Linked DNA regions of Homo sapiens. The protein of the gene in region 5 purifies or fractionates together with the protein of the main gene of each other region. This does not show direct contact. Each region holds a gene or a part of one and is shown on either strand. Other genes may lie near its edges. The genes, in order: WIPF2, CDV3, ZC3H11A, USP3 and TXLNG.

Region 1 (5,897 bases), on a different chromosome or scaffold from region 5:
AGGTTTTTATATCTAAATTATGTGAGAGTGATTCATACACACACCCATTATGAATCAGTAAGAGAAATAACTTCAAGACCTTTGCTAGTGATGAAAGTGCAAGTTAAGCTCATTAAGCCTTAGTGGTTATGATGTCAGCTGACCACAGTAAGGAGAGAATGTCTGGTTGAATTTTTACACCTAAAGTCAAAGTTCAAGAAAACCAGCTAAGATTCAGCTTAAAAAGCAGTGACGAAAAACAGCCAACACCCACATAAAAACAGATACACACATTCTGTATGCTTTGTCCCCACCCTTCTTTTCTTTAGCCTCAATCTGAGAATCTGCCATGCAACACAGGTAGAAAGAATTATAAGAGATTCAAGGAAAAGGTCACAAGGCCAGGAAGCCTCCTAGGTTCCCTGAAATCGTGGGCAAAGGGGAGTTAGGTGGAAATATAAAATAAGGACTGGCTGGGTGCGGTGGCTCATGCCTGTAATCCCAGCACTTTGAGAAGCTGAGGTGGGACAATCACTTAAGCCCAGGAATTTGAGACCAGTCTGGGCAACATAGGGAGACCCTGTCTTTACAAAAAAATTTTCAAAATTAGCCAGGCATAGTGGTACACACCTGTGGTCCCAGCTACACGGGAGGCTGAGGTGGGAGGATCACTTGAGCTTGAGAGTTGGAGGCTGCGGTGAGCTATGATCACACCACTGCACTCCAGCCTGGATGACAGCAACATCCTGTCTCAAAAAAAAATAATAATAATAATAAAATAAGGACCATCAGAATCTCCCAGGAAGGGTAACTAGAACTCTAGAATTTTTTTTTTTTTTTTTTTTTTTTTTTTTTTTTTTTTTTAGTGCAGTGGCATGATCTCAGCTCAGTGCAACCTCCGCCTCCTGGGTTCAAGTGATTTTCCTGCCTCGGCCTCCCGAGTAGCTGGGACTACAGGCATGCGCCATGACACCGGTTAATTTTTGTATTTTCAGTAGAGACGGGGTTTCACCATGTTGGCCAAGCTGGTCTTGAACTCCTGACCTCAAATGATCCACCCGCCTTGGCCTCCCAAAGTGCTGGGATTACAGACATGAGCCATCGCGCCCAGCCAACTAGAACTGTAATTTTCAAAATACAGCTGGAGAGGAGGAGAGAAGACCCTCAGAAAGCTATAGATGAGTCTGCCCAATTCAGTAGATCTACTTTTTCAAGGGACCTGGAATCAAACCACTACACTTACCCAAATTATGAGGCAAAGGTTTTCTCCCCTCTCTGTGCCACCACCTGAGGCGGTATTCCAGACAAGAGTACACAATTTTCACTTTTTGTTTTTAAGCAAGGTTTTAATTAAGCTGCATGGCATCCAGAAGAGAGAAATGTACCAAAGAATCCAACCTGAGACCAGATTATACATTTTAGAGGGGGGAAAAAATCAATGCTATTTGGGAGAGGGAGCACTGTAATCAGAATATAACTCCAAAATAAATCATACAATAAATTATTTTCTAAAAGAAATTGATCCACATGCAGACAGATGAACACACACACGCACACGCGTGCGCACGCACACGTGTCATTCTAGTCATTTATTCAGTGTTGACTGTGACTTCCATGGAGGGCACCATGAGAAAGGAAAAGATTAGACATGTGAAAAGAAGGCTAGGCCCCATCTTGCCACCAGTGGAATGAGATTTAAGACCACTAGAGAAGGAACCCACTAAATTGCCAGAAACAAGAGTAGAAAGAAACAGCAGTTATCAAGGAAGATTTTAATTGCTTCAAAGAGGGAAAGGAAGAAAGCACAGAAATCTAATGCAAGTAAAGGCACAATGAATGTGGAGTTGAATGGAACCAAACCCTTCCTTCGGTTAAAGTTATCCTTTTTTTTTTTTTTTTTTTTTTTGCGTGTGGTTTTGATGGTGGTTGTAGTTTTGTTTCGTTTTGTTTTTAAGAGATGAGTCTTGAAGGCAGAGTTGTAATGGCCCTCCTCTCTCCCCTCCCATTCCCGAAATTAGGGTAGCTTAACAGAAAGCCACCTTGACCACATGGCCAGGGACTGAGATTCAATGGGGAAAGAAAGACTGTAGCTGGAATGTGAAGAATTTGATTTGCAGTTGATTGCAGGTTGGGTTTCCGGAAGGGCAGACAGCTCAATGTAGTGCCATCATAGGGCCTCAGATGCCCACACTCCACCCCCAGAGCTTCACAAAATGGAAGGACCCTGGAGTCACCCTTCTCCCCCACCCCCATAAGCACTCAGCCTACAGATTATTTCAAGTGATCAGGAGAATTAAAACACACCCCAACCCTGAGTTGCTCTTTAGCAAGTCTATTTACAATTTTTTTCTCACCTCTCCCTGGAGGTAAATCTGGGTTTCAAGTTGGGAAGCCATGGGGTGAGGGAGTTCCCCAGTGCAATGGCCGATGACGAGTATCCTTGCCACTGCCAGTTAACAGGGCTGGGATGAGCTCCTGTAGACAGCAGCCTCACATCCATCAGCTAGGGTAGCCCTAGGTTCTCACTCTGTTGGCCTACGCTGTGAAAATGATGGGGCTCTGCAGTGGAGCAAATCCCCATGACAGAGAAAATCACACCTGGAATATCAAAGTGCTTTGGTCCAGGTTCAGTGACCAGAGAAGAGGAAGAGGGGCATCTAGCTCATTTAAAAACCTGGAGGTTTGCCCTGCTTCCCAGACAGGGCAGTAAGAAACAACTATAACGTTTTTCCCATTAGGGAAAAACATCACAAAACCAAACCCATAGAAGGGCTTTTAACACAGCTTCCTGATGCTTAGCTGGGCAATGTCTCTTCCTTCTGTGGGGGGACAAGGGAGTTAATGGGACTGGGCAACAGCCTCAACATGAGACCACCCAATCTTCCACGAAAGAGACGACATTCCCACAAGCAGATAAAAAGAGCAGTTTAAAAGGTGAGGAGTTTTAGTGCTCTTGTAGCCAGCCCACCTTAAACCTAAATTAGAAGCTTTTTACAACATACAAAATAGACTGATAACTATGCAGATCACATTCCCATCTTCAATAGTAAATATACATAGTAATAAATCTATTATTAACAGTGGGACCAAATAACATATAAGGCAGACATTTAAACAGGTGTTGTATCATCAACATGCTCTAAAAAAAACTCATCTGACTAGATCTAGACCCAGGCCTTTTTGCATGAGGCCAAGACAACAAGTATACAATCAATACCCATGTGACACAGTCCAAGTGCTGGGGAATATGAGGGGGCAGTGGGCCATGGGGAGGAAGATATCAGCCCCAGTGAAAAGCTGGGGTTTGGCTTTACTCGTGATATTTTGATGCTCTATGTCTGAGTAAAGGAGGAAAAAAAAAAAAACACTTTGATAACGTACAAAAGGCATCGACTCCCATTTCAAAAATAAATGGGAAGACTTCACAGTCAAAGTTCAGTCACTTGTCAGTATCTGCCCTGGAACTCTGATGCAGTATCAACTCTTGTACTCTCTCCTTTTCCCTCCACTAGCATGCCCTCTCTCAGTTGTTTGGTTTGTTTGTTTTCTGAGATGGAGTTTCACTCTGTCACCCGGGCTGGAGCGCAGTGGCGCCATCTCCACTCACTGCAACCTCCACCTCCTGGATTCAAGCGATTCTCCTGCCTCAGCCTCCCCAGTAGCTGGGACTACAGGCACATGCCACCACGCCCAGATAATTTTTGTGTTTTTAGTGGAGACGGGGTTTCACCATGTTGGACAGGCTGGTCTCGAACTTCTGACCTCAGGTGATCCGCCCGCCTCGGCCTCCCAAATTGCTGAGATTACAGGCATAAGCCACAGCGCCCGGCAGTTCTGTTTGCTTCAGGATGCTAGGGATACTTCTGGGAGATAACTGCTAACAGATTAGAAAGAAGAATGATACATAAAAAATGATTAGGAAAAGTTTGGTGACAGACCTAATCATGGTCTGTCCCAGAGTTAATATGGTCCAGGGGATGGCAAAGGACAGCAGACCCCATACACATTACCCCCGTTGAGCCCTCCCTCACCTAGCACTGGGGAGACTTGGGTTTCACCTGGCACCATGCACAGATCCCTAGCCTGTGATCCAATCAACTGGAAAGGTCTCTAAGACAGTTTAAGCCTGTGATGTGTGTGATTAAATTTTTTTTTTTTTTTTTTTTTTGAGACGGAGTCTGGCTCTGTCGCCCAGGCTGGAGTGCAGTGGCGCAATCTCGTGATTAAATTTTTAAGCTAATTTTCCCCATCCATTTCAAAGAGTAGCCATGGTCTCCTTGCTCTCATGCCACGCTCTGAGCACCCTCTACACATAGCAACAGTTGTAGAAAACCAAAGCATCTGGTGTGTGGAGCCCAAGAGCCCCATCCTGCTGTCGGAAAAAAAGAAGTCCTCATCCAATCAGCTTCCTACCTAGACTGGGGACCTCCATTTTCTCTGTGCTCTTTAGGACCCGGAAGACAAAGAAACAACCTATGGCTGGCTGCCAAGGAAGATCTACTGAACTGAGGCAAATCTCAACAAAGTCTTTGTGCTTCCTGGCATAGAAGAGTATCTGAATATCTTCATAAGCCTCTGCTCACTTCTTCACCCTTCTGTACTCTGCTGTGTTAAACCGTGCAGTCCTGGGAAGGCAAGGGTGGTAGAGAAAGGAACAGGAAGAGTCTGCTCAGTCAGGTGGGCTGTGAACTTCAGTACAGGCAGGACTTAAAAGTCCTTTGCAGCCCCACAAAGCCAGCTCCTTCCATGAGGGGCTTCAACCTGCCCTTCTTTGTTATCCTGGAGCACCTTCCAGGGGCTGAAGGACAGAAAGAGCCACTGACAACTTCAGGGCCAGTCAGAAAAGACTGAGGCAGACACAAGATTGAGGTTAAGGCCCAGGCCCACGCCCTATCTTCCTATCTCCCACCAGAGGTTTTTGGGGTTTGTGAATCAGGAATGAATGATGCCCTCCACAAAAAGTGACTTTTCTTTCAAGGGCATGGGCGGTAAGGGGGAGGAAAAACATCCCTCAGCCTAGCACCCTGAAGCAGTGGGGTGAGGGGTCCCAGAGGGTTCAAATGGCTCCTGTTCCCTTTGCTGCAGAGAACTGACTAGTTCTAAAATGGTCTTCAGTTTATTTCACCCTTTCTTTTTATTAAATGTTAAGTTCAACTGATTAGTATTTAGTGTTTATATCCAATTTATCCCTGGGGTGGTGGGGTGGGGGGGCAGCAGGTGAGAACAAAAACAAAATACCCCCAAAAATAAAGCAGACCCAATTCCTTGCCCTTTCTCCAAATATGACCTTTAAAACAGATCACTTCTTGGCAAACTCCTTTCTTGCTTCACTAAAAATGCTCCCCTCCCACCCATAAGTCCTGGTCATGCCAGCCTCCTAAATGATGAAATATAATATACCTGCCAAGCTTCCCCCACAGTGGACAGGAGAAGGAAGGAGTACCATTCTCCACCCTGCCCTAACAGTGAGTTAATTCATCACAACAAGGCACCTTTCCCCAAGAGGAAGGCAGAAGACACGGAAACTTGTTCCTCATGTGGCTAGCAGGGCTTGCTGGAGGAAGGATGGATGCAGGGTTTGAGATCCTACTGTCAATATAGAGTCTGATCACCAAATCCAGAGATGAGATGCATAGATGGAGGTGAGCTGGGAGGACATTTGGAGTCTAGGGCTTGATTGCATTGGAGAAACATGTTAGGAGCTCTCATGCAGGTTTCAGGGGAATGGAAGGGACCATCTGAGAAGAAGAGAAGGTCCATCCTTTTCCTGAGGAACGGGACCAAGCCAGGCTTCACCTGAGAATGGGTGGCAGAGGTGGGGCTCCACGGGCAGCTGAAAAAAAACAAAATAAAGACCACACACATACAGGTCACCCACCAGAATCTGAACAACCCACACATTCCTAAAATGAGAGACA
Region 2 (6,231 bases), on a different chromosome or scaffold from region 5:
ATTTTATGAAAATGTTGGTAGTTTCTGCCAGGTGTATCTTCGAGGTGAAGAGTTGCAAAAAGGACGTTCGATTTAGCCATTATTGTGCTTTAATATCCCTGTTGTCAGTATCCCTTTTGTCAAGAGACAAAAGATAAATACACTTGGTAATTTAGGACATGTAAAGTTACACAAAATAATAAAAAGTAATCCAGCAAAAAGAGAAATAATCAAAGATGCCTTGGAGAAATAGATTATGACTCAAGTCAATTCAAGAATAAATTAATTAGCATTGAGAAAATACTGCAAGCAGTCTTAAGATGGTATGTTACCACTGAGGGTATCTTTTCCATTTATAACATCTGGAAAGCCAAAGACTGAGATCTTATATATTTTTTTTAAACAGGTGATAAATACATGTCTGGTGTTAGGGGCTAATTCTATCCTCTGTAAACACTGGACACAGACTTGTTTTCATCTGCTGGAATGTGAATTCTAATTCTGAGAGTATTTTATGTGCGAAAGGATTGGCAAATAAAATTATACAACTTTCAAAACTCTTCATTTGCTCACTAAAAATATGCTTACCTTAAATGCCTGTTTGTACACTTTGGTGCAAGGAAAATTTTGTAATTGTGCTCTTAATCCTTCAGCTCACCTTCTTCTCTGCATTTCAGGTTGTATCATCCTCTCTTCCCTCCCTTAGTCGCTTGAGGTGGTAACTGGGGTCTTGCTCTTATGTGGGGCTGCTATAAATGATCAGGCATATTGTCACAGAGGCACATCAGGTTTTTTTTATTTTTATTTTTTTGAGACAGTCACGCTCTGTCGCCCAGGAGGGAGTGCAGTGGCACGATCTCAGCTCACTGCAGCCTCTGCCTTCCGGGTTCAAGGGATTCTCCTGCCTCAGCTTCCCCAGTAGCTGGCATTGTAGGTGTGTGCCCCCATGCCTGGCTCATTTTTGTATTTTTAGTACAGATGGGTTTCGCCATGTTGCCCAGCCTGGTCTTGAACACCTGACCTCAGGTGGTGCACCCATCTTGGCCTCCCAAAGTCCTGGGATTACAGGTGTGAGCCACTGTACCTGGCCTCACTTTTTAAATAAGACGTTCAGTCTCGAAAGAGATTGACTTCTTCAGGGTCGTACAGATAATCATGGATAAAACTAACGATTTGGACTGAAAATTTTCTTGGTGATTCCTTAATGAATTTACATCTTTGCTTTTCCAGCAGTGAAAAGGAAGAAGACGATAATGAAAAGAGACAAGATCCAGGTGATAACTGGGAAGAAGGTGGAGGTGGTGGTGGAGGTATGGAAAAATCTTCAGGTCCCTGGAATAAAACAGCTCCAGTACAAGCACCTCCTGCTCCAGTAATTGGTAATTTTACTATTTCAGTTTCAGAAAGATGTCTAATTTATATATGATTTTATATATGGTCCACTTTCAACTAAGTGCATGATTGTGGTAGGGTGAGGAGGAGAGGCTCCTTTCCATTCCTGGTAGAGTGGGATGTGTATATATCTTGTTAAAGACTTTAAAATCCTAAATAAAAGGAATCTGGAAGTTAAAAGACATGCTTTTGTCCTGTATGTTGCTGTAAAATTTATATAGATATAGACTAGTCGATTCCAGTTTCATTTATTGGAATTGAGCATTTCTTCTAATATTCTCGTTAAATATTAACTACTTGCTAATGGAGGAAAAGGTAAGGAAAAGACTTTAATTTACTAGAATCCAAGGTCAGCTTCATTTAGGATTTTTAGTGGTAACTACCCTAGGGTTGGGTTTAACTCCAAAAGTTTTCATGAGAGAGAAAATTCCTAAAGCTTTTATCATTTAAAATATTTTTGACAGCTGAGTAAAGACAGAAAGACAAGGGGCCCTTGTCTTTCACTTGTGCTTTGTCTTTTTCATTCCCTATTTAACTTTCCTGTTCTTTGAAGCATGAATTCTCAGCAGGGCCAATTTTATCATTCTCAAGGTGGTAAAAGTTGCTTCTTATGGAATGAAGGAATCTTATACCTTAACAGTCATTTGTGGCCCACGAAAAGACTAGAATGCATAAACAGATGTATAGTATATCGCAGTATTAAAATTTCATGGAGTGGGGGGCAGTTAGGAAACAGATGTCTGAAAGGTCTCCTTAGGGCAATAATGAAAGTTTAAGAGCACTACTTTAAAGAAGTGTATACTCATTATTTTATTTAGAATGTTATAAAGAATAACATATCACTCCAAATCTTGTTATGCAGAAATCACAGATAACTACTCTATGTTAAATTTTTATTTTTATATTTTTTAGAGACAGGGTTTCACTCTGGCCCAGGCTGGAGAGCAGTCATGCAATCATGGCTCATTGCAGCCCCTCAACTGCTTGGGCTCAAGTGATCCTCCCACCCCAGCCTTCCAAGTAGACTACCGGGGCATGCCACCTGTTTATTTTATTGTAGAGATGAGATCTTAACTATGTTGCCCAGGCTAGTCTTCAACTCCTGGGTTCAAGCAATCCTCCCACCTTAGCTTCCCAAAGTGCTGGGATTGCAGGTGTGAGTCACCACACCCGGTCTTATGTTTTTAAATCATCTTTAGAATCTTTTTGTTTTGTTTGTTTTGTTTGAGACAGAGTCTGGCTCCTGACTTCAAGTGATCTGCCCGCCTCGGCCTCCCAAAGTGCTGGGATTACAGGCGTGAGCCATTGTGCCTGGCTAGAATCTTTTTTTCTTTTTCTTTTTTTTTTTTAAGACAAAGTCTCACTCTCTTGCCCAGGCTGGAGTGCAGTGGCACAATCTTGGGTCACTGCAACCTCCGCCTCCCGGGTTCAAGCTATTCTCCTGCCTCAGCCTCCCAAGTAGCTGGGATTACAGGCGTGCACCACCATGCCCCGCTACATCTTTGTATTTTTAGTAGAGACGGGGTTTCACCATTTTGGCCAGGCTGGTTTTGAACTGCTGACCTCAGGTGATCTGCCTGCCTCGGGCTTCCCGAAGTGCTAGGATTACAGGCTTGAGCCACTGCACCCAGCCCTGGCTAGAATCTTAAAAAATAACCACACTGGCATTTCATTAAAAAATTCTTTACATATGGCATCTTAATCAGTCCACCAATCAGGTAAAGAAGTAATTCATATTTACTGGTAGGGAAACAGGACTAAAGTCCTATTCTGAGAGGCAGTCCCTGATGAGACCAGTCATCCAAGCCCAGCAGATTCCTTTTCTACTTCCAGTAATTTGGCTTGTGGAACTCATCATTTACGTAGATTACTAAAGTTGTACGTGGAGGAGGAGTTAGAATACTACCCTAGAAAAATACAATGTTTTCACTTTTCTTTTTTCTTTTTTGAGAGCCGGAGTCTCCTTCTGTTGCCCAGGCTGGAGTGCAGTGGCTCAATATCGGCTCACTGCAACCTCTGCCTCCTAGGTTCAAGCCATTCTCCTGCCTCAGCCCCCTGAGTAGCTGGGATTACAGGTGCCTGCCATCATGCCCAGCTAAGTTTTGTATTTTTAGTAGAGACAGGGTTTCATCATGTTGGCCCAGCTGGTCTTGAACTCCTGACCCCAGGTGATCCACCCACCTCGGCCTCCCAAAGTGCTGGGATTACAGGCGTGAGCCACCACGCCCAGCCTGTTTTCACTTTCAGACATTTTCTGAAATGAATTCCCTTCTGTGGTCTGACCCAGAGACCCTGGTATTGTTTTTTCTATAATTGTTAAATGATTGGGAATGCAAGAATAGCTTATTAAAATGCTGAGCATTTAAATAGTTTATCTAAAAATTGTTATAAAATATTAGTTACAGAAACCCCAGAACCAGCGATGACTAGTGGTGTGTATAGGCCTCCTGGGGCCAGGTTAACCACAACAAGGAAAACACCACAAGGACCACCAGAAATCTACAGTGATACACAGTTCCCATCCCTGCAGTCAACTGCCAAGCATGTAGAAAGCCGGAAGTAAGTACTATAATTAATTGCATTTTGTTTGGGACTTCTGTTCCTAGGCCAGGGAGTGGGATATAGGGGATGTGCATACCCACCCAAGGGAGAGACTACTCCTTAACTAATAAAGCCTGAGCTTCAGCTGACAGGCAGGTGAGAATCAGGGTGGGACTTCATATGTCCAGAAGGGAGGAAAGGGGGAGGGCAAAGAGCATTGGAGACACTTTGTCTTCTGTCTGCAAAAGTTTATCTTAGCCCTGGTTTATGTTGTTTTATAGCAATGACAAGTTTTAATGTAGTTAAAATTCTTTTATAATTAAGTGGCTTTTGCTCCTTATAATATGGAAACTAGAAATATAAAAGCGCTGTTTAATTGTATTCCCAGTTAATGTGACTATAGACAGAAGATGTTGGCATTTATAAATCTAATATTAAAATAATCTTATTTCAGCAGGTACTTAAAATGAATGCTACCTGGAATTAAATGACTACATATGGCACATCTACATCTTACTTTAGGGACATGAATTTTTTAAAATAAATAAAATGGGAAGAAATGTAAATGACATCAGATGGAAATGTGTTTTTTGGGGTGGCTTTTAGAATAAATCCCAGCCTTTTCACCACTTTGAGAGCACAGCTGGCTTGAATTTAAACCTCCACGTGGACTTGCTCCTCTGCTCTGTCTTAAAAAATGTGTAAGGGACCTTGGGAGGGCAGTGATTCACCACACTCGAGTTTCTTTACCTGATCTAATCAGATCCACTCCCACAAAATCGATGTGAGGAGAAATCATTGACTAATGAGTAGAATTTACTTGAATGAGAAAATTGTTACCCTTGTGCATAAAGAGAGAGATGTATTATCTATTACTTGCTAAAAGTAAGAGTCTTAGGAGGAATGTCATTACACAGCTTTTAACAGTTTTCTTCAAGTTTGTCCTGAAATAGGGTCACAGTTAATACTGTTCAGTAGAAGATAGGACCCTAGAGCTTCAATACAGCGTTCTGTGTTTTCTGTTTGAATTGAAGCCTTAAAATGGTTTGATAAGGATTTTCTATATGCCTCCACTCCTACCCCTCCCCAGGATTCTTCTAAGGGGTGGCTTTTTTTTAAATTCAAGGACGAATATTTTCAAAAACCCTAGTGAAGAAGAAATATTTACTGATTACATTTCTTTTCCCTTAGGGATAAAGAAATGGAGAAGAGCTTTGAAGTAGTAAGACACAAAAATAGAGGTAGGGATGAGGTTTCAAAAAACCAGGCCCTTAAACTTCAGCTAGACAACCAATATGCTGTGCTTGAAAATCAGAAAAGCAGCCACTCACAATACAATTAAGGAATGGGCTTTGCTAACCCTTCTGAGGTAACTAGACTGCAGCTAACCACCACCAACAGCCATTCATCATCTGATCTCTGCTGGATCTACAGACACCGATGCAGACCACTCGATTTCATGACCGGCCCTATTGCACTATGGAAGTTAAAGTGTCACGACTGCTCTATGCATATTGGATTTAGGGGAATTTTCATTGTTACATAAATGTGTGAACTAGTTTCAACAGTGTTCTTTCATATTTACTCTGCAAATACAAAAAACCAAAACCTGCAGCCAGTGGTCATTTCAAAATCTTTTTATGTTCAGATACTGAGCCTTCATAAGGGTTGACTACCTCAGATTTGCTGCACTCATTGTGGACTTCATGTGGATCACAACTTCTGGATAAGAAGATTACAACTATTAAGTGTCGATGTGAACCTTGCAACCAGCTCTACTGGATTCTTATCAGAAATCCTGCATAAAAAGTCAGCCATCTGGGTTCTGATCTGCTGTAAAAGATGAAGATTTAAGTGACCTTAATTAACCTGTCCTGTGCCCTACCCTTAAGGAATACTCTCTGTAGTAGGCTGTTGTTATATTAGACTTCCTGGAACACACTGCTGAAAAGAACTGATGTGTTCAGATCATCTGTGTAGGGCTGTGATTTGTAATTTAAACTAATTGTATTCTGAGGTAACCACAAAATAAATTCAACCAAACTGGGGTCCACCAAGTGGGGGAAGGGGAAGGGAGAGAATAATCTTGGGGGTTTTTTTTTTTTGGTAATTTTTTTATTTGGATAGTGCTTTTTTGTTTTGTTTTTGTTCTGCATTAAGGCCTTTTTTGCTTTGACTTGAAATAAGTTCTTTGACAGAGCATATTGCTTGGTTAATTAAGTAACCTAAAGTATGCATTAGGATTGTGAAATGTCTCGTGAGTATGCCAATCCTGAGGGTGGAACCAAATAGCCTTTGATGAAAAGGGCAGTGGATTCT
Region 3 (6,231 bases), on a different chromosome or scaffold from region 5:
GAGACCATTCACAATAAAAAGATATACAGGAAGGGCCGGGCGTGGTGGCTCATGCTTGTAATCCTAGCACTTTGGGAGGCCGAGGCGGGCGGATCACGAGGTCAGGAGATGGAGACCATCCTGTCTAACACGGTGAAACCCCGTCTCTACTAAAAATACAAAAAAGTTAGCCAGGCGAGGTGGCGGGTGCCTGTAGTCCCAGCTACTCGGGAGGCTGAGGCAGGAGAATGGCGTGAACCCGGGAGGCGGAGTTTGCAGTGAATCGAGATCACGCCACTGCACTCCAGCCTGGGCGACAGAGCGAGACTCTGTCTCAAAAAAAAAAAAAAAAACACATATACAGGAAGAAAATGAAGAAGTATGCAAGACCCACATTAAATTAAAAACAAAACCAAAACACTATGAAACTACTAAGGCACAGAAGACCTGGATAATGAATAAATAGAGGATTAAAGAAATTACTTCTCCCCAAAAAATAATGCACACATCGAATGTAATTCAAGTCAAAATCCCAATTAGAGTTTATTACTGGAACTTGATTATAAAATCATCTAGAATCATTATTTAAAAAGGAATGGGAGGCCAGGCATGGTGGCTCACACCTGTAATCCCAACACTGGTTGGCCAAGGCAGGAAGACTGCTTGAACCCAGGAGTTTGAGAACAGCCTGGGCAACACAGAGCAACTCCATCTCTACAAAAGGTTTTAAAAAGTAGCCAGGTACAGTGGGGCACACCTGTAGTTCCAGCTACTCAGGAGGCTTCGGCAATAGGATCTCTTAAGCCCAGGGGTTTGACGTTGCAGTGAGCTATGATCATGCCACTGCACTCCAGCCTCAGTGACAGAGCACAAGACCCTGTTTCAAAACGAAACAAAATAACCCAGTGCTTTTCTCCAAGGAGATGGAATTACAGGAAGATTTCACTTTGGCTATGCTGTTTTTACCTTTTTTACAATGTACATATATTATCAAAACAAAGAAAGAAAAACTATGGGCCAGAGGCGGTGGCTCATGCCTGTAATCCCAGCACTTTGGGAGGCTGAGGCTGGTGGATCACCTGAGGTCAGGAATTCCAGACCAGCCTGGCCAAGATGGTGAAACTTCATCTCCACTAATAATACAAAAATTATCCGGTGTAGTGGTGCACATCTGTAATCCCAGCTACCCAGGAGGCTGAGGCAGGAGAACTGCTTGAACCTGGGAGGAGGAGGTTGCAGTGAGCCAAGATGGCACCATTGCACTCCAGCCTAGGGGACAAGAGTAAAACTCCGTCTCCAAAAAAGAAAAAAAGAAAAGAAAGAAAAAAATATGTTTCCATCCCAAAACTAAAAATTTGTAAACAATTATGTACAAGCAAAAATGTCTGAACAATGGCCTTTTAATTTCTTACTGATCCATGAAAATTATGCCTTAAATGACAAGAATGTTCACTCCTTTCATGCGAAAAATGCCTGCTTCCCCACTTACATTAGCTGGTTGCTCTGAACAGGAACATCTGTGTCTTCACTGAGTTCCAATCTATTACGCCTGTAGGTCGAACCAACACTCAATCCATGAATTAATAATAATGAGGCAGAAAAAAATTTCCTCCTCACATTGCCAAGAAAACCTCTCAGCCACAATTCAAACACAGCATGTGTTTTTAAAACATCTCCCAACTACTGGGAGATTAAGTCCATTCAAATAACCTTTGTCAGACTGGAGACAGCTAGGGTTAGTTATCTCCTCAAAAACAAAACAAAACAAAACAAAAAAAAAACAAAAAAAAAGAGTTCATTTAAAGATGAACTTGAGAGTTAAAGGATCATGAAAAAAAACTCCATCTTCCATAGCTGAACAATATAATTTAAAAAAAAAACAAAAAAACATCAGTTTTTCAGTAAGATCCAATTTCTGGTCTTCAAGATTTCTTCACCTATTAAGAAAAAAACAGAAACCTTCCCCCATCTTTATTATCTGTATAATAAAAGCATACTTGTATGTAAAAATATAGTGTTTTATGTATATAATATACATACAGATATATACTAACTGGCTTATACACACACACATATACACAAAAATGTATAGAAATATAACATTTGGATAAGTTTCCCCTTTTAAAATGCACTATAAAAGACTTTAGATTTGGGTTCATTATAAAAATAAAGAACTTACTCTTATACCAAAGTATCATGAAGTTATTGTTACACTAAATTTTGCCCAGCCCACAAAATAAAGACGAAGGTAAATCCTTACACATATATCATTATGTATAATATGGATGTATGTATATATATCCATCATCGTCATCAGGGAGTGTTTAACCAAAAAAGATAGAAACGTATGGTAATAGAGTAACTACAGAGTGGTGCAGCAAGCTGTAGAAGGCAGAGCAGCATTATAGCCATTCTAAACTGGCACTGTCAAAACACAGAAAGCTTTATCTAAGGGAAAATTTATTTCTTATTTTGTATCAACACCAGTATCACTGGTTTGCCATTAAATAGTGGCCCTGGAAAGGCTTGCTTACGCAGCCTAGGTCCAAATTCTTTACTACTAATGGCTACAGCTAAAGACTTTGTAAGTATACATTTACTCCAGTTAGTAAAAGGGTAAACTTTTGGAGTTGAGATTTCATTTCACAATGGCATATTTACCATTTAAGAATTTAAAAAAAAAAAAAATCAAAACCAAAAAAAACCCGATTTTGATACATAGAAATGAGTTCTAAACTTTGAAACCAGCCCAGTAACAAAGCAATTTTGATTCTTATGTAATAAATACTACATAATTTCTAGGCTAAATCTTGCCAAATACTATCCAAGACAAAACTAAAATCAAAACTTAAAAAAAAGTGGACACCTTTTACTCACACTTAATACTAGTCAATTTTCCAGGAATTTTTTGGGCAGGGAATATCCCCAAATCTAAAATGAAAAAAAGGAAAAATTGGGATCTCACATTAGTTATTCAGTCTGAAACTTTTAATAGACTTTTACTAAAAGTCATCATTTTCTGGCCTCCTACTCAATCTCAGAAACATACTTTCAGAGTAGAAAGGGATCTTAAAATGAGATCAATTCACTCATTTCACCAATGATTCCTAACACATAAAAATACCGACTGCTTAGTTTTCATTAAGAATTCAGTGGCCAAAACAACCGCACAGTTAATACAGTATAATGGGTCATTAAGTATGTTTTTAAAAAGATTACCTAAAATTACAGAAACAATCTTTGGGAAATGTCTACTGGGTTTTTCCAAGCATGTTCAAAGGGCTCTCATTACAATTCCCATTCAACCTTTTCCAATTCTTGCAAACATTTTAGTCTGTTTTTACCCATAAATTATTTGAAAGTACCTACACAATCTATTTTTATAATATTTTATAAAGGTTAAAACAGGCATTTCAAAGACTAAAAGTATATTTTCCTAATTGTTTTCTAATATTTCCCTTTTATATAAGATCCAATTCTAAAGGGTAACACTATCACACTCAACAATTTGAAATTATAAAGCTGACCAGTATGAGGAGGCAATTAGAAATTTCCAAATATAAAACAATTTCACGGGTTTTCTTTTTGCCAAGTTGTAATTAAGCATCAGGGTTTTTAAGGAAACAGAAAAACAGGGGCAGGAGGAATGCCAGCCAGTGTACTTTTTTCTCATTTCGTTGATTTCAGAGCAATAAAATTTCCCATGGTGGGGGAAGTTTTACTTAAAACCAATTACTAGTTCAATCTACCAGGAAGAAAGCCTAAGGCCTTTCAATGCTGCACTATATTTTTTTTAATTAAAAATATCTTCTCTCTCATTGGTATAAGCAAAATTTTCAAGTGCTAGCGCCACAGTTATAGCTATGAAATCTTTAATCTTCATTTTATCAAAATTATATTGCCTCTGAGGAATTTTCAGCCCTTGTGTGATTTCAGGTTTCCCCAGATGTGTTTATAAAGATAATGATTATATTTAACAACTACAGCTATTAAGATACAGTAACACAGCAAAAAGTTGCCCATTTTAAATGGAGAAAAAGAAATTAAGGCAGTATTTCTTTTTCACTGCTTTGAACAACTTCATTCTGCTCAGGATCCCAGCTCAGAACCAACGTAGAATAATCGTAGTTAACATTTTTCAAGTTCATTTTCAGAAACATCAGTTGTTCTATATTGTCAAAGTCCAGGCTCATGATCTGTTTTGGATGAAAGTGGCTATTTTTAGTAAAGATACATTCAGATTGCCAACTACACATGGGGCAACTTAGATACTGGATGGCAACCTGGGTCAAAGCCGGCCATATGCTTATCTTCCTCTGCCAGTAAATTAAAGGGTCATCACCTCCTGAGAACTCTGAATACTTCTCTTTGAAGTACTCATCCACAACTGCTACAGCAGAAGGGAACATGAAGCTTTTGCTTCCAAGGGCAACATTGTCTACAGCTGAGCTATCAACAGAACCTGAACTGGAGGTGCCTTCTTTTAGAGATGAGGTAAATGAATCAGCTCCCACTGTAACTGAGGGACAAGAAGCTTCTGAAGTTGGAATTTGGCAGATCTCTGGTGAAGATTCCATATAATTACAGACCTCTTCTGCAAGGAACTGCTTATAAGTTTCTAAATCAGCACCTTGAGGAAAAAAGTCTTCCAAACTGTTTTTAAAGCAAGGATCTAACAAAGTAGCCAAGATACAGGGCTTGGATTTAAGCATGGCACTTAGTAGGGTATCTGTTTCAAGTTTCAGAGATAAACTATCCACCAGATTGAGGGCCTGAGTAATACCTCTGACTTGAAAATCTTCTCTGAGTTTCTGCAGGGAAAGGAGTAGATGATGGATTAGGGGTAGCACCTGATTCAATCCTGCGGTCTTCACGCTCACTTTCTGGGTAGCCTCCTCAAATGGCTTAAGAATATCACAAACATAAGTCATTAGAGTCCACTGAAGGGAGGTGAGCACAACTCCACTGGCTCTACCAAGACTATGGTGAACTGAGTAGCAATGCTCCAAGAGCCATTTTAACATATAAAAAGTAGAAATCCAATGGCCAGTTTCGTCCTGCTTCAAATTCTTCCATGGAAGTTGGTGATCATTTTGGAACTCTTGCAGTATCTGACGGGCCTTGACCGAATGACTAAAATGATGACAAGTTTTCCTGGCAGCCACTAACATATTCTCAATGCTTTTGTGCTCGCAGAAAAAGTCCTGAATGACCATATTTAAACAATGCAGGAAGCATGGCACATGGGTAAAACCACCATCTTTGATTGCATGTACCACATTAGAGGAATTGTCAGAAACAATGAAGCTAGGGATAAGGAAATTTGGAGAAAGCCACAGACCAATCTGGTCATTTAATTCTTGTAAAATATTGGTTATCAAACAGTCTTTAGCCAAACCTGTAACACAAAGCACTGCCCACTTTCTAAAATCGGGGATCCTGCCATTATTGAGAAAAGACGCAGTTTCCAAAGAAACCCAGTGTACAGTCACAATAAAATAGTCAGTGGATGGGTCATGGGTCCATATGTCAACAGTCAGGTGTATCTTTTGGCTTTGAACATTCTCTAAAGTTAAGAAAATTTTTTCTCTGACACAATCATATAACTGAGGTACAGCCTTAGTGAAAAAGTAAGTCTCTGATGGCAACCTATAATCAGGGGCCACAATCTGCATGAACCTCTGAAAGGCTGGGGTTGAGAAATAGTTGTAAGGATGCATATCCTCCACAATCATTTGGATAATTGCCTGACTTATGTGACTTGAGACTGGATTTCCACAACATGTTGTTTCTCTCTCCTGCGCACGCATCAGAGTGCCTTGCTCTGCAACGGGAATAGGACTTTCAGATCTGTTTTCAACCTCTAACATAGGTTCATCTGAATCAGAGTCACTAAGGTCCTCAGCTGTTAAATCTTGGCTGCCTGTAGACTTTTCTCCATGCAAGGTATCACTCAAGAGATCACTTCTCTCAGTCTCAGCTTCATCTAATCCATTTGCAACAGCACCACTGTCTTTGTTGGCAACAGCCCAATGGATAGGATGTGTGGCTTGCAGGTGTCGTTGAAGTGTTGAAGTCCCTAAGTGGGACCCTGGCCTACCCCGGCTCACACTTCTTTTACATATATTACACACAGCTCTTGAGATGTGCTGAGGATCAGTGTAAAAAAAATTCCAAACGGCAGATGTCTTGGCTCTAGTTCCAGGAATTAAAGCATGCTTGACAATGTTACTTTTGATGAGAAATCTCCCT
Region 4 (6,231 bases), on a different chromosome or scaffold from region 5:
TGCCAGAAAGTCTCGTTGGCTTAACACAAGATACATTTTGTCCCTTGTGGAGAATTGGTAGGCTATGTCTACCAACCCCCACCGCCCCCAACCAAAAAAAAGAAAAAAAAAAAACCACCACAGGACTGTCTTAGAACACTTGTAGAAACCACAACTGCTTTCTTTAAATGGGATTCTGGTTCCAAATTTGAATCTTTGAGTTAAATCTGTTTTTTAAAAACAAAACTGTCTGGGCGTGATGGCTCACGCCTGTAATCTCAGCACTTTGGGAGGCTGAGGCAGGCGGATCACCTGAGGTCAGGAGGGAGGTTGAGACCACCCTAGCCAACATGGTAAACCCCCGTCTTTACTAAAAATACAAAAAAAAAATTAGCCAGGTGTAGTGGTGGGCACCTGTAATCCCAGCTACTCAGGAGGTTGAGGCAGGAGAATTGCTACTCGGGAGGCCGAGGTTGCAATGAGCTGAGATCGTGCCACTGCACTCCAGCCTGGGCAACAGAGAGAGACTCTTGTCTCCAAAAACCCCCAAAAAACAAAACGAAAACTCCACTTACTTACTCCAACAGTATTTTCAACTTGTCCTATCAATCAGGATAGGCCAGAGAGAGGTGTTAAAACCCAGAGCAGCGAAGATTCTAAATTTCCTCCTGTGGAAGCACACCCCCCAGTGATAAACTGAAGTGCGGGTGATGATCCAAGTAAATCCCAGAGGGTCACACCTCAGACTCAGATGCCAAACACAAGCAGTAAGTAAGTCTATAATGGACATGTCGTGACTTCCAGTGGTACAACTAAGGGGGAATGAGATACTGATTCAAAAGGAGGCAGACGCCATGGCTTTACCTCACTGGTAACACCTATACCATGTCAGTGAGTCACAGCATTTTTTTTAAACATTACATGTATTTGGTCTTTACTCCCATCTTACCTCCCCGCAAACAAGTATGCCCCAAAACCAAAAAAACCAACAAAGAGAGTAATTCTTGTATTTGCAGGACAAGTACAACTGAACCAACAAATTTATTTAGTTAGTGCTGATAAAGACAGCAGCCTTGAGAGACAAGCAGTAATTACCTGGTCTACTTAATGATGCCCTTTGTTATATTTTACAGGCAAAAAGAATGATTCCTCAGCAGTCATTGTGAAATTTTGTGGGCCACAAGTATTGTGCACACATGATCCTTGATTTAGAGTCAACCTGATGTCCATTATAGCTGTGGAAAGGCAGCAGGCAGTTGTGTCGCTCTTCACAATAAGGAACACATCTTGCTTTCAGCATGTGAGAGGAACAAAAGCATTGATGTAAATGTGCCTCAAAGTGAGAACTGAAAACATTAACATAAAATAAAAAAGTCAAATAAGACTAAGTTCTTACAACTACCTATAAAAATTGAATTATTACAACTAAAGCAGCAAATCAAAACATCTGCTGAGGTTTTCTGGTAGAACAACAACAAAATTAGTTGGTGCCCATGTTCAGTAAGTCACTACCATTGACAAAACTAAATCCAAAATAGGAAATTGAAAAGTGCATAATGAAATTAAATCTTGTATCAAGTATTTGTGGAAAACTGGAAATGTTTCTCTGGTATGGTTGGTGAATGATGATTTGGAGGAGGTATTAAAGTTTATCCGATCCAGCTTTGGCCTGGTGTTCCACGTAGAAAAGGATGTAGGCCTTCGCCTTCACCACAGTCTCCTCGTCAGTCAGTGTTACAGTACTGTCATTGAAGTGGAACCAGCGGCCTTCGTGAGTTGCGTATGCTGTGTAATGTCCAGAACCAACCCTGTAAAGGCAAAAGACCAAAGGAAAAAAGAACCTCAGAAATCACAAAAAGACCTGTACAACTATATAATGTTAGATTTAAATTTTAATAAGAATACATCCTAGACTTTTGATTTAAGATGCTTGTTAAATTAATGTTTTTACCTTCCTCCAAACTGACCAGAAATCGAGGGTTTGCTAGAACACAAAGCAGATGGCCCTGGACTAATGGAGAAAACAGAGATGAGGAACTCGCAACCTAACAAGCACAGGTCAAAGCCTACGGAAACATGGAAAACTAGGTACCAGGTTTTCCCATCAGAATCTTAGGAAAAAACTAAGCTTAACAAAGAAGGGCACCCTTCCCTGACACCGTGGTCATCAGGGGCTCTACCCTATCAGCATGACCCACCCACTCACACACACAACCCTGGAGTCAGTCCTCCAAGTCAGACGGAAGGCCTGCAGCTAGAACAGACCTTTGTAGGTGCCAGGAAAACCCTATTTAAATAATAAAGATCCATCTCATCATTTACTATGATTCCAAATAAACCACCAAAACCAAATTTTAAAAACAAGCCTTTTGCACGCCTACAAAATCACATTTTTGAGGGGAAAGAAATACCGGGAAGAACAAGCAAGGCAATCAACCCTGAGGAATTGAATGCAGAAAACCTAAGAGAACTTTACATTTTTAAATTAGTGCTAATAGTTTCAAAAAGATAGTGCAATCATAAAACAAGAATAGGCTGTTACGAAAAAGTTGTCAGAAAAATGTGACTGATTTAATATAAATATTTTATGGAGGAGCTTATCTTTTATTTGGATACAGATGAAACCCAAATTGGTGATTTGGAAAAGTAGGCCATGGCAGTCTTTAGAAACACAGACAGAAATCATTAGAGTATTTAAGACATGTGGAAGGGAGATCCAGGAAATTCACTATGCATATAATAGGGGTACAGAGAACAAATGATTTCAGACCTACAGTATAGAGAGTTTCATGAGCTGAAGGCACCAAATTAAAAGTGTCCCTACCAACTACCAAGCAGGAATACACTCCAAGGAGAAAAAAGCCAGGTGCCTGTAAAGTAGTGAGAATCAGACTTGTCATTCATAACACTATGTGAGTGTAGACGTTACTTTATCACAGCTCTGCGGGAAAAGGATTTTCAACATGGATAGTCGTCTGCCCACATATAGTAGTCTTAAGTTTGAAGGTAAAATAGCCACTCTCAAACCAAAAACCAGAAGGTTAGACCCCTCATACAAACTTTCAGGGGAAAAAATTAATGTTTTTTAACAAGACTTAAAATGAGTCTTTAAAGTAGATGATATGGAGTAAGTTATTCCAAGTAATTTCCCCTTTTGCCCCATTTAAATTTCAGTTGGTAAACGAATAAGCAACTTTGGAGTTTGTGGACAAATAAAGACTGGGTCGTAAATACTGGGTTCAAATGAACCATTCTTCATTTCACTTTTATTTACCTTCCCTTAAGCCTTCACAACATCATCTGAGGAGTACTCTTCCGCACCAAAACTGAAGGAAATTTCACCTACTTTATCTGAATCCATTTTTTAGGAAGAACTAGCAAGAGTGGTACAAAACTGCAGGTCATTGGGCTGGCCACCAGGTATTCCCACCCACCAGAAGCTGGCTGTTGTACTCACCCGGAACCATGGTGCACCACCACAGCGGCGAGGTCATACAGGCAGCTCTCCGGGCCACTGTTCTCAGGCTACAGAACAAGGAAGAAGGAGCAGTGGTCAATGACATCAGTATCTCGATGACCTCTACCCTCTCCATGTGATGACAATCTTACTGAAGAGCCATTTTTTCACCATGCTAAAAAGGTAACCACCTTACCTCTAGTAAGTAGCATTTCATGTCTAGGCCTCTCAGTGGAAATTCTACGTATGTATCAACTTTATTTCTTAAATATGCTGTCCAATGAAATCTTTTCAAATGTAAGCATAGCACCTGGAGGACAGAGATGCGGTCAAAGATTGTGAACACCTAATTTACCTTTCAGTCAAAGTTTGATACTACTATCAGTTCAGTAAATAACATTTTAGCTGCCCTATCAATCATTCTTCCATGCATACCTTATGCATTCATTCTGTAAGGGGTTTAGCTTTTACTGAAAATCCTAGAGAAAAATACAGAACAGTTCACATAGTGTAAAGTTATAGACATGGTCTTAGCAGTCAAGCACTTTCCCATTGAAATTGCTTCATAACTCAAAATTCAACACTCACCTTGGGTAGTTTTTGAATCCAAAACTTTTTTGTGGACTTTTGTTTCTTTTTGCATTTATGGCACATATATAACTCTGTCTCATCAAGTTCTTCTAAGTCGGTAAAACTGCGAAGACAATCTAAACAAATTGATTTTGGCAGCATTAAAACAAGATGCCTTTTGTAGAGGCAATGTACTGTAGAAAAAAGACCCAGGTTTAAAATCTCAGCTTTATTAGCTATACGACCTTAGAAAAGTTAACCTTTCTCAATTGCAAACTGGAGACAAAAAATAATACCTACTTTGAAGAACTATTATAAGGAAGAGAAATAATGTGTAGAGCACCTGGCATCATGCCTGACATCTGGTGATGATCAATTGTGTTGGTTTTACTATTAATGATAATTCATCTGGATAATTCTGATAAAATGGTTTCCTGATGAATTTAAAGTTTCAATTGTAGTTTTCTGTCAATATGTTACATTATACAGGACAAAGCTCCAAACTCATAAAAAAAAGTCAAATTTAGATAATTTAAAAATAAACATAGATCACAGAAGGCTACACTATCAACCTTCTCTGTCCAGACGCTGTACTCTCAGTTCCTAGATAAATCACAGCTACATTTTTTTTCATTTAAAGATGTAATTGTGTAACCTGGGGTTTAGTAAACTACAGTCCTAAAACATCCAGCCAGCCACCTGGTTTTGTAAATAAAGTTTCATTGGAACAGAGCCATGCCCACTTGTTTACATTATTGTCTGGCTGCTTTTACACTACACCAAACTGAGTCACTGGGGCAGAGACCTTATGTGGTGCAAAGCCTAAAACACTGTAAATCTTCACTTAATATCATGACAGGTTCTTGAAAATTGTGACCTTATGTGAAGCAACGATAAACCACTTTTTTCTCATCAATGTTATAACTAAACGTTAAAGGAAACTATTATTGGAGGACCTGCTGTATGTCATTTTGCTTTAAACTTGCAGTTTCCAAGAACCTACTGATGACATTAAATGAAGACTTACTGTATTTACTCTTTGGCCCCTGTGCCAATTCCTGATGCAATCAGATATTCATAAATCTATATAAAATACACGTTATTCTGTAGAAAAAATATGAATGCCTATGGACCCCACACTTGGATTTTCTCGAGTACTCAAGGAGCCAGGGTCTCTGTGCACGGCCTCTCCTAGAGTTGTGCAGTGGACAACCTGTGTGGCCATGTGCTTCTTACCAAAGATAATTCCCCTTCCTCTGCCCAGAAGTAGCCATTATCCTGACTTTTATGTCATTTGTCTTTATAGAACATGTATGTATCTTTAAATAATATATTAAAGTTGGGTAGCAAGCAGAAACCTAGCTGTGTACAGAAAAGCGCTCTTGTCTCTGTACTCAAGTTTCCAAGCCATAGTCAGCCTTTGTGTCCGCGACAGTAGCAGACAGCGCCCCTTCAGGGAAAGTTAGTGGAGGCAAGGTGTGGCAGAGGACTAGACAGTCTTGAATATGCCTTTGTTGCCTGATCCTAGTACCTAGAAGGCACATTCCTATGCCTGCCTCCCTACAACTCAATTCTCGCCTCCCTGCAACTCAATTCAATTCTCACTTCTTTGAGACTTTCTCAACCTCCAGTGGACAGTTAACCATTCTTTCCTCAATTTCCCACAAATACTACATTGCCAACCTGCTCAACCTGCTATTTTATGTCAGTGATGGTTCCTGGGAAAGGATGTATTATATTTTGACATTACAATTCCTGAAGCAAGTCTCAGACATTACAACCAAACTTGCAAATAGAGTGATGCTGTTCTCAGGAGCCTCCCAAGTCCTACATCTCTGGCTACAAAGAAAGAGCACTGACTACACAGCAGACTGGCTGGCTGGCACTAATAATCCCTTCAGACTGATCACTATGGTGCTTGTGAGCTCTGCAGCTGAAGTCATGGGTGCTTTCTTCAGCAAGTATTTGTTACATCATGTAAAAAGCTATGGCCTTGGCGGGGACAGCGGGGGTCATAGGGAGAATAAGAAATAAGGAAAGGAAACACAGAATTTTCCACATTTAAAATCATCATTTGAACACTCAAACTAGAAAAAAGGAGAACTTCAACATGACAAAGGCCATATATGAAAACCCACAGTGAATATCACACTCAATGGTGAAAGACTGAAAGCTTTGCCTCCAAGATCAGGAAGACAAGGATGCTCACTTTTGCCACTTCTGTT
Region 5 (6,008 bases):
AGCAGAGCCTGTGGACGGGGGCTTTTGCACAGCGCTTCTCTGACTCTTGGGCTCAGCCTCCAGGTGCGCTCCCAGGGCTCTTTTCGAGGAAGTGTTCAGCTCCTTGTGAGAATCCAGGGCAGTACAGGGCTGCATCACAGGTGTTGCTAAATCCCTGTTCGCCGCTTTGATGGCCGCTTTGATGGATACCTGCTCTTTCAGGACTTCCACCTTCTCATTGAGCTCATTCCTTTCTGTCTGAAGAGCCCTGCACAGCTTCTCTAACCGTTCCAGTTTTATTTGAAGGGCCTTGTACTCTTTATCACGGACTGTTTTCTGTAAGAAAAAAGAGGATTTCTGTAACCCTGTTAAATATCAATCAGGTTACAAAAAAATTAAGCCAGCTCAGCCATATTGGACACTTCTCACCTATGGAACATGTTCCGTCTCTTCAGCCTCCTAACATTCTAGCTAGCTAGCATGACTGCACCCATAACTATACCGAATGAGATTTAGCATATTGTTTCAGGGGGACAAAATTAAATTCCTTTTGTCACTTTTTTTTTTTTTGAGACAGAGTCTTGCTCTGTTGCCAGGCTGGAGTGCAATGGCGTGATCTCGGCTCACTGCAACCTCTGCCTCCTGGGTTGAGGTGATTCTCCTGCCTCAGCATCCCGAGTAACTGGGACTACAGGCGCGCCCCACCACGCCCAGCTAATTTTTGTATTTTTAGTAGAGATGGAGTTTCACCATGTTGGCCAGGATGGTCTTGATTTCCTGACCTCGTGATCTGCCCGCCTTGGCCTCCCGAAGCGCTGGGATTACAGGCGTGAGCCAAAGATAAACTTTTTAAGACATTTCCTATTGAACTATTAAGGAAATTCAAGATATGACAAAGAGTAGCAGACACAAAGGCCTACATACAGAAAATGACTCACTTCTACATAGATTTCTCCTCTTCCAATTTTTAGATGAGAAGTTTGTTGTTTTTTTTGAGACAGTCTCGCTCTGTCGCCCGGGCTGGAGTGCAGTGGTGCAATCTCAGCTCACTGCAACCTCCGCCTCCCAGGTTCAAGCAATTCTCCTGCCTCAGCCTCCTGGGTAGCTGGGACTACAGGCACGTGCCACTACGCCCAGCTGATTTTTGTATTTTTAGTAGAGACGGGGTTTCACGATGTTGGCCAGGCTGGTCTCGATCTCTTGACCTCATGATCCGCCTGCGTCGGCCTCCCAAAGTGCTGGGATTACAGGCGTGAGCCACTGTGCCCAGCCGAGAACAAGGTTCTTGTACACATGTGCCCCAGCGTTTTCTTTCTTTCCTGAAGTGTTATATAAAACAGGCAAAACGTACTTTGTTGCTTTTTTTGAAAGCCTAATAAGTCAAGCTAGAAAGGCCCTACATGCTGCATCAGCATCACCTGCATGCTTGTTAGAGAGGCGGATTATCTGCCTCCGCCCCCAAGAACTAGTGACTCAGCCTCTGGGAGAAGCCCAGCAATCCTGGTCTTAACAAGCAGGCGTCTGATGCAAGCTCAAGTTTGAGAAATCACTGCTGTAGAAGAAAGCAAAATCTAGATGTTTTATGCTATCTCCGACACAAGCCTGGGCTGATTAACTGGGTGGTAGGAAGCTCAGCCCCTCACTCAGGGCCCTGTCCCTAACCTAACTGCCAGGAAAGAAGTCACAGATTCTACCCAGCAACTCATCCCCACCCCCGCCCCAACGCGGGCTGGAGTCCTCAACTATGGTAGTAGTGTTACAGCACACGTCCCCGGCCCCGATAGGTACCTGAACTCAAGGAGTCCCCATGACTAAGACTACACCTTAGTCGCAGGAAACCATCTCACCTCTTCAGCCATTTGCAGAAGTGCTTTATTATTGTTTTCCCATTTGGTACGCCAAATTATTGTTTCTTTTTCCAGTTTTTTAATTTTCTTTGTCATCTGTGAATACAATTGCACATTTAAATTCTAAGTTCCCTTCCTTATCTCTACTCCCTGTCCCAGTACACAAAAATGTTTCTGTGCCCCTCCCCTCCCCCATCCCTGCACCTCCCTCACCCAGCTGACAGCTGTGTGTGTCTTTATAGAAGTAGCTGTGCCTGCCTGTCGGTAGCAGAGCTTATCTCAGAAGCTCCTAGGGTGGAACCAAAGAAGGGGGTTTGTATTATGAGAAAAACAAATTTAATCTCCTCAATTTCAGAGGCAGCAGCACATGGAGGAAGCTGTCAGCCACCACACTCTGAACTCAGTTAAGGCTGAAGTGCAGCTTTCATCCCAGCTCCGGGTAGCGAGAGACAAGCCCTCCTTCTCCCTAAGTTGTATGAAAAAATGCCCATGACTGAGTTTTCTGTCCATTAAACGAATTCCTCAGATTCTTGGGAGGACAGCGATCTTCAGCCCCACAAGACATTAAGAACTGACACTCCACCACAACCTCCAAGAACACATCAGTTTCAGAACTCAAGGCAGCATGATTCAGGTAAGACTCCAGTGACCAAGAAGATAAAAGTAGTTAATACCTCAGCTTTGGTCATCCTCACAATTCGTGAGGCTGATTTACTTCAGATTTTGCTAAAGATAAAGTGGGTCCCCAAATCAGGGAAGTGTTAAACCTATGCTACCAGAACACAATTTTCAGAAATTCAGGATGCATTTATCCATGCCTGTAGCTAGCTACTTTCTCAATATGCCTTCATCTACTGTTGACTGCACACCAGCTCTGATCCAGGTCGGGGCATTGAGCCAGGTGGTGTTAAGGGAAACAAGGATAAGACAGAGCCAGTGCCCTGTGCCTTGGGTAATTACCCACAAAACTGTAACACAAGGCAAACCGGGACAAAGGCCATGGGAAGAGCTGGTGGAAGACCTAGGTTGACTGCTGACCCATGGTGATCTCTGCAGCCACGGACAGAGAGGAATGTGTTCCAGTCCCAGAGGACCAGAAGGATGGCAGATCCAGGAGGCGGGAACTCTCTGTTCCACCTCAACAGTGAGTCTGTGCTGGCGTCCAGCTATCACCTGCACTGTGCCTAACAGCGCCCCCTCAATTGCAGCCTCAACTGAAAGGACTGGCAGGCAGAACGAATCTGCTGCTCATGGAATTCTCCAGATTACCAGGTCTAAAAATACCTGGAGGTGGTAATTTGAGCACCAATCAGCCACATGGTAACTGAGTACATGTTAATGTGCCAAGCACTGTCTGAAATACTCTATTTCATGAAGGGCAGGTTTTTGTTACCAATTTTAACAGTGAAGGAACAGAAAGGTTTAACAATTTGTCCATAGTCACACGTTCTATGATGCAACTGGGACATTAACCCAGGGCGCACGGTCTCCACCACTATGTGAGATCTAATAATAGTCATGACTAACATCTACTGAATGCTAACAAAGTGCCAGGCACTACTGTACTTCTCCCCAACCCAACGCTATGTTTTTAAATCCCCCATTTTTAAGGGAAGGATGCCAAGTAAAATAAGGCTGGCTGGCTGGCTGGATATGCATAGAATTATATACTTTGGTCCTTAGCTTGATCTCAAGGATATCTCTTTCCTTAACATAGGCAGGAAAATGCAACAGAAGCAAAAGAATTGGTTGGGTCAGGGGAGAAAGAATTCAGTGGGAGTAAAGATAAGAAAAACAGAGAAGCTAAAAAAGGTAGAAACACTGATATATCAACCAACCAAAATATATGATTATTATTCTGGGCTTGGATGTCTTTCAATAGTTAATCTCCAAGGACACAGAGTTTTATGAGAGGGCTGAGGATGATCCTCTAAAGTGGTTAAAACAAACAAAAAACAGCAACACACCAAAAAAACCACCACTTTATTTCTAACAAGTTGCATTTAATATAGGATTTCACTATAATAAAGGTAGAATTCTAAGAGCATAGAGAACATTAGCTACTTGGGGTACATTGAGGGCAAAATGACCAAAAATGCCACTGGAGGATCACTAAAGAGAAAATGAAGACAGTATCATAACAAAGGAAACTCAGCAAAATAGTAATCACACTTAAAAGAGCTTATACAAATTCCATTTGATATACTATTCTACTAAAAATATGTAAATACCTTTTCCATTTCCTGTCTGAAGGTTGTAAACAGTTCATTGCTTTTTGCCATGGTAGTCTGGAATTCTTCAAACTTATCCATATAAAGAGAAAGCTATAGGAAAAAAAGTATGAAACATTCTGAGTTCCATGCAAACAATTCCAGTTCCCAAACTTTCAAAAGAACGTAGTATGGTTACTTATTACAAGTGATAGAAATACGAACAAATGCACATCCAATCCTTGGACACCAGACATAGATGGCTAAAGTTCTGACAACCCACAGAAATGCATTAAAACTGAGGACATTCTGTTGACTTTAATATTAGATCTCCACCCATTGGTCATAACACAGCCTGAAGGATGTGGTGACTATAAACGTCATGCATGTGGAGTGCTCGCCCAACTACCCCTCTCCTGCCAAGTGAAAACTGTCCTTGGGAAAAGATCATTCCTTTAGAATACCACCTGCAGAGTTCTTAGTTTGATAGCAATGGTATCTCTTTCCTTAACGAAGGGAGGAAAATGCAACAGAAGCCAAAGAATTGGTTTGGTTGGGGAAGAAGAATTCGGTGAGAGTAAAATTAAAAGAAAACGTAAAGAGATCTACTCTTAACATAGTCCTACCCTCAAGGAATTTTTATTTAAGGATGAGGGAAAAATGCTAACCAACAAGGCAAGCAAAATATAAAATGGAGTCACCATCTTCTCCCCCTTAGAAAGGAGTCCAGAGAAGTATACGGGGAAGGGCACACTGAGGCTCAGGATACTTAGGGGAAGCTTCATGTGGGAGGCCTGAGCTGGCCCTCATAGGTGAGCTGAATGAGTTCATCTTAGACCAGGAGGGAACCTTTCAGAGACTATCCAACATAATCACATTATTTTCAGGATAGGGGAACAGAGAGAGACCCAGAGGAATAAAGTATTTTGGGCAAGATCACACGATAGATATAAGAAAAGCAGAGAAGAATAAAGGATCTTCAGAGGCCAAGAAACAGCATAAGCAGTGCTGGATGCAGAATATTCACCAGCACCACCTAGCGCACAGGATGCAGGGCAGGGTGGAATATGATGGTGCCCGCCCAGCCACAGCCAGCAGGGGGACGGGCCATCCCGGAAGCACTTAAGCAGCACGCACTGTGGTGTGGTGGACGCAGAAGCCAACTGAAAGTTAGTCATCTCACAGTGACCTTGTGCTTGTTAGGCTAGACGAGGTCCCTGTGAGATGGCCAAGCCACATCTGCACAAGGGCCTGGCCTGGGATGAGGACAAAGCAGGAAGAGAAATGCAGGGTGACCTGGAGAACACACAGGATTTGTTAGCAGACACTGACGGGGCCTCTGACATGACAGGCCTGGAGTTGGGGCAAGAGTGGTGCTCACGCAGAGGGAGGGAGCAGTATTAGTGCCTGAGGGACATTAGAAGTTACAGCAGTTTTGATGTGGTCCTTTAGGGTCTCACTCTGTCGCTCAGGCTGGAGTGCAGTGGCGCAATCACGGCTCATTGCAGCCTCGACCTCCCTCTTGGGCTCAAGCAATCCTCCCATCTCAGCCTCCTGAATAGAGGGGACTGTAGGCACACACCACCACACCTGGCTAATTTTTGTATCTTTTATAGAGATGGGGTTTCACCATGTTGCTCAGGCTGGTCTCAAACTCCTAAGCTCAAGCGATCCGCCCGCCTTGGCTAGGATTACAGGCATGAGCCACTGCGCCTCGCAGGCACAGTCCACTTTTATTGAAAATGGAACATCCAAATAAAGACTGTCCCATGTGAGAGTTCAGTGCTGGCCCAGTGGGTAGCCAATAAGTGGCCACTATTATCACACATGGACCTCCATGGCTAGATTACAAAACAGCGGGTGAAGACAGCACAAAGACTTTGAGTTACACCAGCAGATGCTGGGAAATGACATGGTGAGGGCAGAGAAGGTGAGACATGCTTGGGAAGGACAGCCACATTTAGAGGAAAAC

What was found.
Region 1: the proteins of TXLNG (region 5) and WIPF2 fractionate together in Homo sapiens (co-fractionation; one large-scale study listed by BioGRID). This does not show direct contact.
Region 2: the proteins of TXLNG (region 5) and CDV3 fractionate together in Homo sapiens (co-fractionation; one large-scale study listed by BioGRID). This does not show direct contact.
Region 3: the proteins of TXLNG (region 5) and ZC3H11A fractionate together in Homo sapiens (co-fractionation; one large-scale study listed by BioGRID). This does not show direct contact.
Region 4: the proteins of TXLNG (region 5) and USP3 fractionate together in Homo sapiens (co-fractionation; one large-scale study listed by BioGRID). This does not show direct contact.

The regions. Positions count from the first base shown.
Region 1 is NC_000017.11:40,278,100-40,283,996, reverse strand, and holds part of WIPF2 (WAS/WASL-interacting protein family member 2), read right to left. Parts: intron 5,813-5,897; coding exon 5,772-5,812; 3' UTR 1-5,771. UniProt on the Homo sapiens protein: Plays an active role in the formation of cell surface protrusions downstream of activated PDGFB receptors. Plays an important role in actin-microspike formation through cooperation with WASL.
Region 2 is NC_000003.12:133,582,793-133,589,023, forward strand, and holds part of CDV3 (protein CDV3 homolog), read left to right. Parts: intron 1-1,209; coding exon 1,210-1,358; intron 1,359-3,770; coding exon 3,771-3,930; intron 3,931-4,366; coding exon of another isoform or gene 4,367-4,382; exon of another isoform or gene 4,383-5,103; coding exon 5,104-5,254; 3' UTR 5,255-5,560; coding exon of another isoform or gene 5,561-5,567; 3' UTR 5,568-6,231.
Region 3 is NC_000001.11:203,798,254-203,804,484, reverse strand, and holds part of ZC3H11A (zinc finger CCCH domain-containing protein 11A), read right to left. Parts: coding exon of another isoform or gene 4,023-6,231; exon of another isoform or gene 2,911-4,022; 5' UTR 2,392-2,910; coding exon of another isoform or gene 2,293-2,391; 5' UTR 1,469-2,292; intron 1-1,468. Other genes in the region: uncharacterized LOC128031836, read right to left, coding at 2,293-2,391; ZBED6 (zinc finger BED domain-containing protein 6), read right to left, coding at 4,023-6,231. UniProt on the Homo sapiens protein: Through its association with TREX complex components, may participate in the export and post-transcriptional coordination of selected mRNA transcripts, including those required to maintain the metabolic processes in embryonic cells.
Region 4 is NC_000015.10:63,586,217-63,592,447, reverse strand, and holds part of USP3 (ubiquitin carboxyl-terminal hydrolase 3), read right to left. Parts: intron 4,739-6,231; exon of another isoform or gene 4,144-4,738; coding exon 4,025-4,143; exon of another isoform or gene 3,747-4,024; coding exon 3,633-3,746; exon of another isoform or gene 3,505-3,632; coding exon 3,437-3,504; exon of another isoform or gene 3,348-3,436; intron 1,788-3,347; coding exon 1,622-1,787; 3' UTR 1-1,621. UniProt on the Homo sapiens protein: Deubiquitinase that plays a role in several cellular processes including transcriptional regulation, cell cycle progression or innate immunity.
Region 5 is NC_000023.11:16,835,735-16,841,742, reverse strand, and holds part of TXLNG (gamma-taxilin), read right to left. Parts: exon of another isoform or gene 4,151-6,008; coding exon 4,058-4,150; exon of another isoform or gene 2,883-4,057; intron 2,461-2,882; exon of another isoform or gene 1,923-2,460; coding exon 1,827-1,922; intron 1,299-1,826; coding exon of another isoform or gene 1,224-1,298; exon of another isoform or gene 1,181-1,223; intron 316-1,180; coding exon 1-315. UniProt on the Homo sapiens protein: May be involved in intracellular vesicle traffic. Inhibits ATF4-mediated transcription, possibly by dimerizing with ATF4 to form inactive dimers that cannot bind DNA. May be involved in regulating bone mass density through an ATF4-dependent pathway.